Regions from separate parts of the Homo sapiens genome. Here region 2 is linked to region 1. Evidence: fine-mapped expression QTL. A gene starts in region 1. The other region holds a variant in brackets. All regions are shown on one strand. Distances are between the middles of the regions. Region 1 holds the start of ZNF132 (zinc finger protein 132). Region 2 overlaps ZNF584 (zinc finger protein 584).

Region 1 (5,210 bases):
GATCCCAGGGAAGGTGTGGGGGTTGTTTATGCAGCAGCCAGGGATAAGTAGCAGTGAAAAGTGAAGCCGGCTGGGCTTCTGGGTCCAGTGGGGACTTGGGGAACTTTTCTGTCCGGCTAAAGGACTGCCAACACACCAATCAGCGCTCTGTGTCTAGCTAAAGGTTTGTAAACGCACCAATCAGCACTCTGTAAAAATGCACCAATCAGCGCTCTGTGTCTCCCTAAAGGTTAGTAAACGCACCAATCAGCGCTCTGTGTCTAGCTAATTGGCTGGGGACTTGGAAAACTTTTCTGTCTAGCTAAAGGATTGTAAATGCACCAATCAGCACTCTGTGTCTAGCTATAGGTTTGTAAACTCACCAATCAGCACTCTGTAAAAATGGACCAATCAGTGCTCTGTAAAATGGACCAATCAGTGCTCTGTAAAATGGACCAATCAGTGCTCTGTATAATGGACCAATCAGCAGGATGTGGGCAGGGCCAAATAGAATAAAAGCTGGCCACCCAAGCCAGCAGCGGCAACCCGCGGGTCCTCTTCCATGCTGTAGAAGCTTTATTCTTTTGCTCTTCGCAATAAATCTTGCTGCTGCTCACTCTTTGGGTCCACACTACCTTTATGAGCTATAACACTCACCACAAAGGTCTGCAGCTTCACTCCTGAAGCCAGCGAGACCACAAACCCACTGGGAGGAACAAACAACATTGGACACGCCACCTTTACGAGCTGTAACACTCATTGCAAAGGTCTGCAGCTTCACTCCTGAGGTCAGCGAGACCACGAACCCACCAGGAGGAATGAACAACTCTGGATGTGCCACCTTTAAGAGCTGTAACACTCACTGCGAAGGTCTGCAGCTTCACTCCTGAAGTCAGCAAGACCACGAACCCACCAGAAGGAAAAAACTCCAGACACATCTGAACATCTGAAGGAACAAACTCCGGACACACCATCTTTAAGAACTGTAACAGGGCCGGGCGCGGTGGCTCACGCCTGTAATCCCAGCACTTTGGGAGGCCGAGGCGGGTGGATCATGAGGTCAGGAGATCGAGACCATCCTGGCTAACAAGGTGAAACCCCGTCTCTACTAAAAATACAAAAAAAAAAAATTAGCCGGGTGCGGTGGCGGGCGCCTGTAGTCCCAGCTGCTCGGGAGGCTGAGGCAGGAGAATGGCGTGAACCCGGGAAGCGGAGCTTGCAGTGAGCCGAGATTGCGCCACTGCAGTCCGCAGTCCGGCCTGGGCGACAGAGCGAGACTCCGTCTCAAAAAAAAAAAAAAAAAAGAACTGTAACACTCAACACGAGGGTCCGCGGCTTTATTCTTGAAGTCAGCGAGACCAAGAACCCAGAGGAAGGAAACAATTCCGGACACAGCAGGACACTGGCCAGTGCCAGGGCCAGCAGCACCTCCCAGAGGGAACAATGGAAAGGCGGAGGAAAACCTAGATTTCATGTGTAGGGGAAAGAGGAGACACAGTAGCCTTACCTAGTGGGCACTGGAGTACAAAGCTCTGTAGTATCATGTCACTGTAGAAGCCCCCTTGGACCTCACTAAGGAGCCCCACATTCTTGGAAGATGTACTGACCCTGTCCTCAAAGGTCATTAAGCCCTGCAACACCAAGCCAATGGGCAGACAGATGTGATCTAAGCACTGAGCGTGAGCCCTAGCCACTGGTCCTCCAACCTAAAACCCTCCTTCCCAAATCCTATCCTCAGGCCGTTCACTGGGCCAGGCCACCAACATAATGCAGTCTGGACGTCCTGAAGCCACACCAGAATTCTATATATCCAGAGGCCCATTTGACACCTCCACTCACAGGTCTCCAGACAATTCAGACTCTATACCTACAAAATCCATCGCTAATCTTCCATGAAACATCCTCCTCCTGCCAACTGCCAACCTCTATTCTCCACAGGAGGCATCCTAATTCTTCCTAACTACTTGGGATGGTCCTTCACCCCTACTCATGCTTATTCCACTTATCTAAGGTAGCAAAAAATTCCATTAGCTCTATCTTGAAGATCCACTGGGAATCTGATCACTTCTCCCATCCTTCTTGCTTCCGTTCTGGACAGGCCACTATCATAACTGTCTGGAACAATACTGCAATAACCTCCCCCACAGTCTCCCTGCTTCCAGCCCCACTACAACCACCTTCTCCAGTAGTGTGTTCATTCAGCAACCACTGAAATACTTTCCAAATTCTAACTCAGGTCATGTCCATCCCTTTTCTGTTCAACACCTTTCATGGCTCCCAGGCGCCCTCGGTGTGCCAGGAGAGGCAGGACTCCTCTTACGCTCTCCACTCGCTGCCAAGGGGGCATGAGAGCCTGCCTGAACGCTCAGGTCAGGGTCAAGTCCAAGTCTTCGCATATGCAGATCCCTCCTCCTGTACCCTCCACGTCTCAACAAACTGGATTCTGAAATGGTGACCCCCAACCTGTGAACGCTCCACACTGTTCAGTGGGGCCCGCAGAGGACCTGGGGCAGATACTTCTCAATCGGAGACTTAGGACAATGGTGCTGAGTCCAGCGGAGTGGGTGCCAGGAGACCTTTGGCGCACGTTCCATGCCTACAGCCGGGCGCACACTGGGTCAAGACCTCCCAATGCGTAGCTTTTCTTGGCCTCGGCCTCGCGCTCCCTAAAGCCAACATAACGCCAAGGGCGACGACTCCCGAGAGCCGCGGACACCTCCGCGCGGTGCAACCTGAGGGTCCCACTGGGCCGGCTTTATCTAAGGCACAGGGTGGGGAAGGGGGGTGCGGTGTTGTGGGGGGCGAACACTGGGCTCAGGGGCGATATTCGCCGCGGTGGGGGCGCTTGTATGTCAAGAAGGCGGAACTTCCCCGACTCTCGTGCCTTCCTCGCTCCTGTTTCCATGGGCCCAGGGAGCCTCCAAGATTCCGTCCCTCGCCTGACAACGCGGTCCCTTCAGAAGCAGACAAAATCGAGAAATGCCAAAGTGATGGTCCGAGGACGACGACGGAAGTCCCGCTGCCAGGCTGTGATTGGCCAGCGTCTTACACTCCGCCCGGAAGTGCCTGTCTCCTCGGCTGCCAATGGCCAGCCCTGAGGCACCGCGAGGGTCCTTCTGGATAATGTAGTTTGCGTTGCCTGAGCAGCGACGCAATAAACGCCATTCCTCAATCACCTTGGCAACGACCTAGCAGTAGCGTGACGGGCATAGGGAAATAGCGTCATAGACGGCGGGGATCCTTGAGCCAATGAAAGCTCGGACCAGTGGCAAGTCCGAGCTGTCATTGAGAGGCGGGACTTCCGGCGCCGCCATTGCGGTCCTCATTTTGCTGCTGGTGGGTTGGGCTACAGCAGGCCTCTGGAGCCACACCAGGGCACGGGAGTGGGTGCAGGGACCGTCACCGCGCCTTCACACGCACCATAGTGCCCGGCTAATTACTCTGCTTTTATGAGCCAAGGTGTTCCCGAAAGTGGAGCCAGCGCCACGCGTCTCCAGGGTCTCCATACCCAGCCTTCGTCCCTGCGGTGCCCAGAGGCCTTGCGCGCATTTTGCATTTGGGAAGACAGGTCCTGAGTGCGACCGTCACCCAGCGGAAGTGTGAGGGTTCGGCCCAGCGGCAGGGCTAGCCCTGGGCCTCCTGTTATGGCCCTGCCCAGCCCACAGGTTCTAATGGGGTTGCCAGCGTTGCTGATGGGCCCGGCGCAGGTAAGTGGAGTGTGCCCCAGGCCCTCACCCGCTGGGATTCCGGCCCTCAGGATCCTGAAGCCCAGATAGAGGGGATGTTGGTGTCCTGGGACTCTTGATCGTGTCCTGTCCTCACACGTGGGTCCTGGGCCCTGCCCTGGGAGTCACTTACCCTTACCATCCTGAATCCAGGCAAGGGGTTATATCGAGGGATTCCCATTTCTGGAATCCTGTGGAATGAGATCTGGAAGGCTGTCCCAGGGACAGTGACCAGCATGTGTACCTTGTTTAGTGGTGATGAAATGGAAGCATTCTGGGGACTGCCGGTCTCCATTTAGTCTGGTGGAAACAGGGAAGGGAAACCAATAGTTAGGCCTGGAATGGCAGCCTGAGGAGCTGGACCTCTATTCTGATGGTGGTGGGAGCCATGGAAGGTTTGGAGTAGAGGAAGTAGGTGCTCTGACTCCAGTCTTAACAGACGCCCTATGGATGCCTAGTGGGCAGCAGACTGGAGGGATGGTGATGGTGGAGCAGGAAGGCCAGTGAGGAGCTGACAGATGTGGTCCAGATGTGTGCTTTGGGTAGCTGGACAGAGGGGTGCCCGTGGAGGTAGGACAGATGGTTGGCTTCTGAATCTGCCCAAACTGGGCCATGGATTACCTGATGTGGGACAGTGAAAGAAAGTGAAATGTTAAGATTGACCTAAGGCTGAGTGCAGTGGCTCACACTTGTAATCCCAGCACTTTGGGAGGCCAAGGCGGCCAGATCACTTGAGGTCAGGAGTTCAAGACCAGCCTGGCCAACGTGGCGAAACCCCACCTCTACTAAAAATACAGAAAAATTAGCCAGGACATGGTAGTGTGCACCTGTAATCCCAGCAACTTGGGAAACTGAGGCAGAAGAACTGTTTGAATCTGGGAGATGGAGGTTGCATTGAGCTGAGATCGTGCCACTGCGCTCCAGCCTGAGTGACAGAGCGAGACTCTGTCTTAAAAAAAAAAAAAAATTGCCGGGCGTGGTGGCTCACGCCTGTAATCCCAGCACTTTGGGAGGCCGAGGCAGGTGGATCACTAGGTCAGGAGATTGAGACCATCCTGGCTAACACGGTGAAACCCCATCTCTACTAAAAATACAAAAAATTAGTCAGGCGTGGTGGTGGGTGCCTGTAGTCCCAGCTACTCGGGAGGCTGAGGCAGGAGAATGGCTTGAACCCGGGAGGCGGAGCTTGCAGTGAGCCAAGATCGCGCCACTGCACTCCAACCTGGGTGACAGAGCGAGACTCTGTCTCAAAAAAAAAAAAAAAAAAATTGACCTTAGATCTTTCAGATGTGGAAGTTGGTGTGAGGAGTAGATTTCAGGGGGAAGATAAAGAGTTGGATTTTGGCCATGTTGTATTTGAGATGTCCCAGACACTACCAAATTGAGGTGCCAAGTAGACCACTAAACATGTGATTATGAAATTATGTCGGGTTTAGGCTGGAAACATCCAAGGGATGGATGCTTGTGTGTGGACACTGCATGCAGTTGTGGGTTGGGTTCAAGATA
Region 2 (5,210 bases), 28 kb after region 1:
CCTGGCTTCTGCTCTGCTGACTGGAGTCACATCCACCCAGCTGGGCACCCACGACTGTTCATCATCCTCCAGCTGGGTAAACACAGGGGATCTCGAAGGTGCAAGTCCTGCGGGTGACAGGTAGTAAAAGAAACAGGCTGGGCATGGTGGCTGATGCCTGTAATCCCAGCACTTTGGAAAGTGAGGTAGGAGATCACTTAAACCCAGACGTTCGCAACCAGCCTGGGCAACACAGTAAGACCCCAACTCTACAAAAAATATATTATTTTAATTAGCCAGGCATGATGGCATGCACCACCTGTAGTCCCAGTTACTAGGGAGGCCATAGTGAGAGGATCACTTGAGCCTAGGAGGTCAAAGCGTCAGTGAGTCACGATCACACCATTGGACTCTAGCCTGGGCAACAGAGTGAGACCCTGTCTCAAAAACAAACAAACAGGCCGGGCGCAGTGGCTCACGCCTGTAATCCCAGCACTTTGGGAGGCCAAGGTGGGCGGATCACGAGGTCAGGAGATCAAGACTATCCTGGCTAACACGGTGAAACCCCCCTTCTACTAAAAATACAAAAAAATCAGGCGGATGTGGTGACGGGCACCTGTAGTCCCAGCTACTCGGGAGGCTTAGGCAGGAGAATGGCATGAACCTGGGAGGCAGAGCTTGCAGTGAGCTGAGATCACACCACTGCACTCCAGCCTGGGCGACAGTGCGAGACTCTGTCTCAAAAACACAAACAAACAAACAAAAAGAAAAAAAAAAGCCTTTCTATGAAGCAAAACTGACATAACTGAAGAAACAGACTGTTCAGCAATAATAACGATTGTAATTTCCCACCATCAATAACAACAGCAGACTTGAACAACAATGAAAACCAACTAGTCCTAACAGACATCTATAGAGCTTGCCACCTAACAACAGCAGGATATACATTGTCACGTGCACATGGAACGGTCTTCAGAACATACCATTTGCTAGGATATAAAATAAGCCTCGGCTGGGCGCGGTGGCTCATGCCTGTAATCCCAGCACTTTGGGAGGCCGAGACGGGCAGATCATGAGGTCAGGAGATCAAGACCATCCTGGCTAACACAGTGAAACCCCATCTCTACTAAAAATACAAAAAAAAAATTACCCGGGCATGGTGGCAGGCGCCTGTAGTCCCAGCTACTCAGGAGGCTGAGGCAGGAGAATGGCGTGAACCCAGGAGGCAGAGCTTGCAGTGAGCTGAGATCGCGCCACTGCACTCCAGCCTGGGCGACAGAGCAAGACTCTGTCTCAAAATAAATAAATAAATAAATAAAGCAAGCCTCAGTAGATTTCAAAGGATTGAAATAATGTCAAGTATGTTCTCTGTCCACAAATGAATTAAAACAGAAATCAACAACAGAAAGAAATTTAGGAAACTCACAAATTTAAGGAATTTAAACAAAACATTCCTAAAAATCCAGAGTCAAAGAAAAAATAAATCACATGACAATTACAAGTACTTTGGGAGGAATGAAAATAAAAACACAGGGCTGGGTGTGGTGGCTCAAGTGTAATCCCAGCACTTTGGGAGGCCGAGGCAGGTGGATCACAAGGTCAGGAGTTTGAGACCATCCTGCCGAACACAGTGAAGCCCCGTCTCTACTAAAAATACAAAAAAAAATTAGCCAGGCGTGGTGGTGGGCGCCTGTAATCCCAGATACTCGGGAGGCTGAGGCAGGAGAATGGCATGAATCCAGGAGGCGGAGCTTGCAGTGAGCCGAGATAGTGCCACTGCACTCCAGCCTGGGTGACAGAGCAAGACTCCATCTCAAAAAAAGAAAAAAAGAAAAGAAAAGAAAAATACAACAGGCCGGGTGGTGGCTCACGCCTGTAATCCCAGCACTTTGGTAGGCTGAGGTGGGTGGATCACCTGTGGTCTGGAGTTCAAGACCAGCCTGGCCAACATGGCGAAACCCTGTCTCTACCAAAAAAAAAAAATACAAAAATTAGCCAGGTGTGGTGGACCATGCCACTCGGGAGGCTGAGGCAGGAGAATCGCTTGAACTTGGGGGGCGGAGGTTGCAGTGAGCCAAGATCGCACCACTGCACTCCAGCCTGGGAGGCATCAGACTCCACCTCAAAAAAAAAAAAAAATTAGCCAGGCATGGTGGCACATGCCTGTAATCCCAGCGACTTGGGAGGCTGAGGCAGCAGAATTGCTTGAACCCAGGAGGTGGAGATTGCATTGAG[C/T]CGAGATCGCACCATTGCATTCCAGCGTGGGCAACAGGACTCCATCTCAAAAAGAAAAATTAAAAAAAAAGAAAAAGAAAAAGAAAAAAATACCACAACAAACAAAAAATTATGGGATGCAGAAAATGCAGAGCTTAGCAGGAACATTATGGCTATAAATACCCATATTTTAAAAGATCTCAAACCAATAACCTAACTTTATACCTCAAGGAACAAGAAAAAGAAAAACAAACCCAAAGATAGCAAAAGGAGGGAAATAATAAAAATTAGAGCAGAAACGAATGAAACAGATTAGAAAAAGAGAACCGACAAACCAAAATTTGGTTCTTTGAAAAAATCAACAAAATTGGCAAATGTTTACCTAGAGTGACAAAAAACAGAGAGAAGACTCAATACTACTTTGAACAGGAATGGAAAAAGGACATCACTAGTAACCTTATAAAAATTAAAAAATAATGAAATACTATGTACAAATGTATGCCAACAAATTGGATAACTTAGATGAAATGGACAAATTCCCAAGTAGACACAAACTATCAAAACTGAGTCAAGAAGAAACAGAAAATCTAAATACAAATGTAACAAAGAGGGTTTTCTTGTTGTTATTAAAAAACATTCCCCCCAAAACACACACAACCCCAAGCCCTGATGGCTTCAAAGGTGAATACTAACAATACTGAAATAAGAATTAACACCAATACTTAAGAAACTCTTCCAGAAAACAGAAGAGAAGGAAACATTCCCAACTCATCCATTGAGGCCAAAATTACCCTCATACTCAATACAGAGACATTATAAGAAAACTACACCACTGGCTGGGTGTGGTGGCTCACACCTGTAATCTCAGCACTTTGGAGGCCGAGATGGGTGGATCACCTGAGGTCGGGAGTTCAAGACCACCCTGGCCAGGCCGGGCGTGGTGGCTCACGCCTGTAATCCCAGCACTTTGGGAGGCCGAGGCGAGTGGATCATGAGGTCAGGAGATTGAGACCATCCTGGCTAACAAGGTGAAACCCCGTCTCTACTAAAAATACAAAAAATTAGCCGGGCGCGGTGGCGGGCGCCTGTAGTCCCAGCTACTCGGGAGGCTGAGGCAGGAGAATGGCGTGAACCCGGGAAGCGGAGCTTGCAGTGAGTCGAGATTGCGCCACTGCAGTCCGCAGTCCGGCCTGGGCGACAGAGCGAGACTCCGTCTCAAAAAAAAAAAAAAAAAAAAAGACCACCCTGGCCAACATGGTGAAACCCCTGTCTCTACTAAAAATAAAAAAATTAGCCAGGCATAGTGGTGCATGCCTGTAACCCAGCTACTCAGGAGGCGGGGGCAGGAGAATCACTTGAACCCAAGAGGTGGAGGTTGCAATGAGCCGAGATCATGCCACTGAACTCCAGCCTGGGCGACAGAGTAAGACTCTGTCTAAAAAAAAAAAAAAAAAAAAAAACAAGTATTATAAGCCATGACAGGGAATTTATCCCAGTAATGCAAGGTTGAACATATGAAAATCAACAATTAGTGTTGGGAGGCCGACGGGGGCAGATCACGAGGTCAAGAGATCAAGACCATCCTTGCAAACATGGTGAAACCCCATCTCTACGAAAAATACAAAAATTAGCTGGGCGTGGTGGTGCACGCCTATAGTCCCAGCTACTTGGGAGGCTGAGGCAGGAAAATCACTTGAACCCGGGAGGTGGAGGTTGCAGTGAGCCGAGATCGCGCCACTGCACTCCAGCCTGGCGACAGAACAAGACTCCGTCTCAAAAAAAGAAAAGGCAATCAATTATTCTAATATACTACATTAACAGAAGAGAGGACAAAAATCACATGATCATTTCATTAGACATTGGAAAAGCATTTGACAAAATCTAGTGACCTTTCTTTTCTTTTTTTTTTTTGAGACGTAGTTTCACTCTTGTTGCCCAGGCTGGAGTGCAATGGTGCGATCTCAGCTCACTGCAACCTCCACCTCCCAGGTTCAAGCGATTCTCCTGCCTCAGCTTCCCTAGTAGCTGGGATTACAGGCATGTGCCACCACACCTGGCTAGTTTTCTATTTTTAGTAGAGATGGGGTTTCACCATGTTGACCACGCTGGTCTTGAACTCCTGACCTCAGGTAATCCACCTGCCTCGCCCTCCCAAAATGCTGAAATTACAGGCATGAGCCACTGCACCTGGCCATGACTTTTCTTAATAAACACATTAAATGAACTAGAAAGAGAAGGGAACTTCCTCACCTGAAATGGGCATCTGCAAAAAACCAACAGCTAACACCATACTTAACAGTGAAGAATAAAGTACTTAGGAATAAATTTAACGAAAGAAGTACCTTTGTGGCCAGGCGCAGTGGCTCACGCCTGTAATCCCAGCACTTTGAGAGGCCAAGGCAGGCAGATCATGAGGTCCGGAGTTCAAGACCAGCCTGGCCAACAAAGTGAAACCCTGTCTCTACTAAAAATACAAAAATTAGCCAGGCATGGTGGCGCGAGCCTGTAGTCCCAGCTACTCGGGAGACTGAGGCAGGAGAATCGCTTGAACCCTGGAGGCAGAGGTTGTGGTGAGCCGAGATTGCGCCACTGCACTCCAGCCTGGGCAACAGAGTGAGGCTCTGTCTCAAAAAAAAAAAAAAAAAAAAAAAAAAAAAAATTATATATATATATACATATATATATATATATACACACATATATATATATACATATATATATACACATATATACATATATATATACATATATACATATATATACACATATATACATATATACACATATATACACATATATATACACATATATACACATATATACACATATATATACATATATATACATATATATACATATATATACATATATATATACACATATATATATATATATATATATATATATATATATATATATTTCCCAAACCGTTCTGATTAAAATTCATGGCTCAAGCCTGGCCCAGGGAGGTCCCTGTAAAATTTCTTTTGTAGGGAGGCAAAACCCAGAGCACAGAG

What was found. PIP is the estimated chance that this variant, and not a neighbour inherited with it, causes the effect.
Region 2: its variant is the best candidate, but not a certain one, in a credible set for the expression of ZNF132 in whole blood (TOPMed, PIP 0.56).

The regions. Positions count from the first base shown.
Region 1 is chr19:58,438,235-58,443,444 of GRCh38, reverse strand. It overlaps ZNF132 (zinc finger protein 132), which reads left to right and starts at 3,292. Exons shown (of 3, transcript NM_003433.4): 1 at 3,292-3,686. The coding sequence starts at 3,624. ZNF132-DT (ZNF132 divergent transcript) reads right to left here and starts at 2,997. Exons shown (of 1, transcript NR_186311.1): 1 at 1-2,997. It also overlaps a transcript of ZNF324B not described here. RefSeq lists enhancers at 2,095-2,604, 2,754-2,883, 3,116-3,626.
Region 2 is chr19:58,410,421-58,415,630 of GRCh38, reverse strand. It overlaps ZNF584 (zinc finger protein 584), which reads right to left. Exons shown (of 4, transcript NM_173548.3): 3 at 1-107. Among named protein-coding and RNA genes, the nearest start is that of ZNF584, 4.4 kb to the right of the region's middle. The variant C/T (reference allele first, on the strand shown) is at 2,215.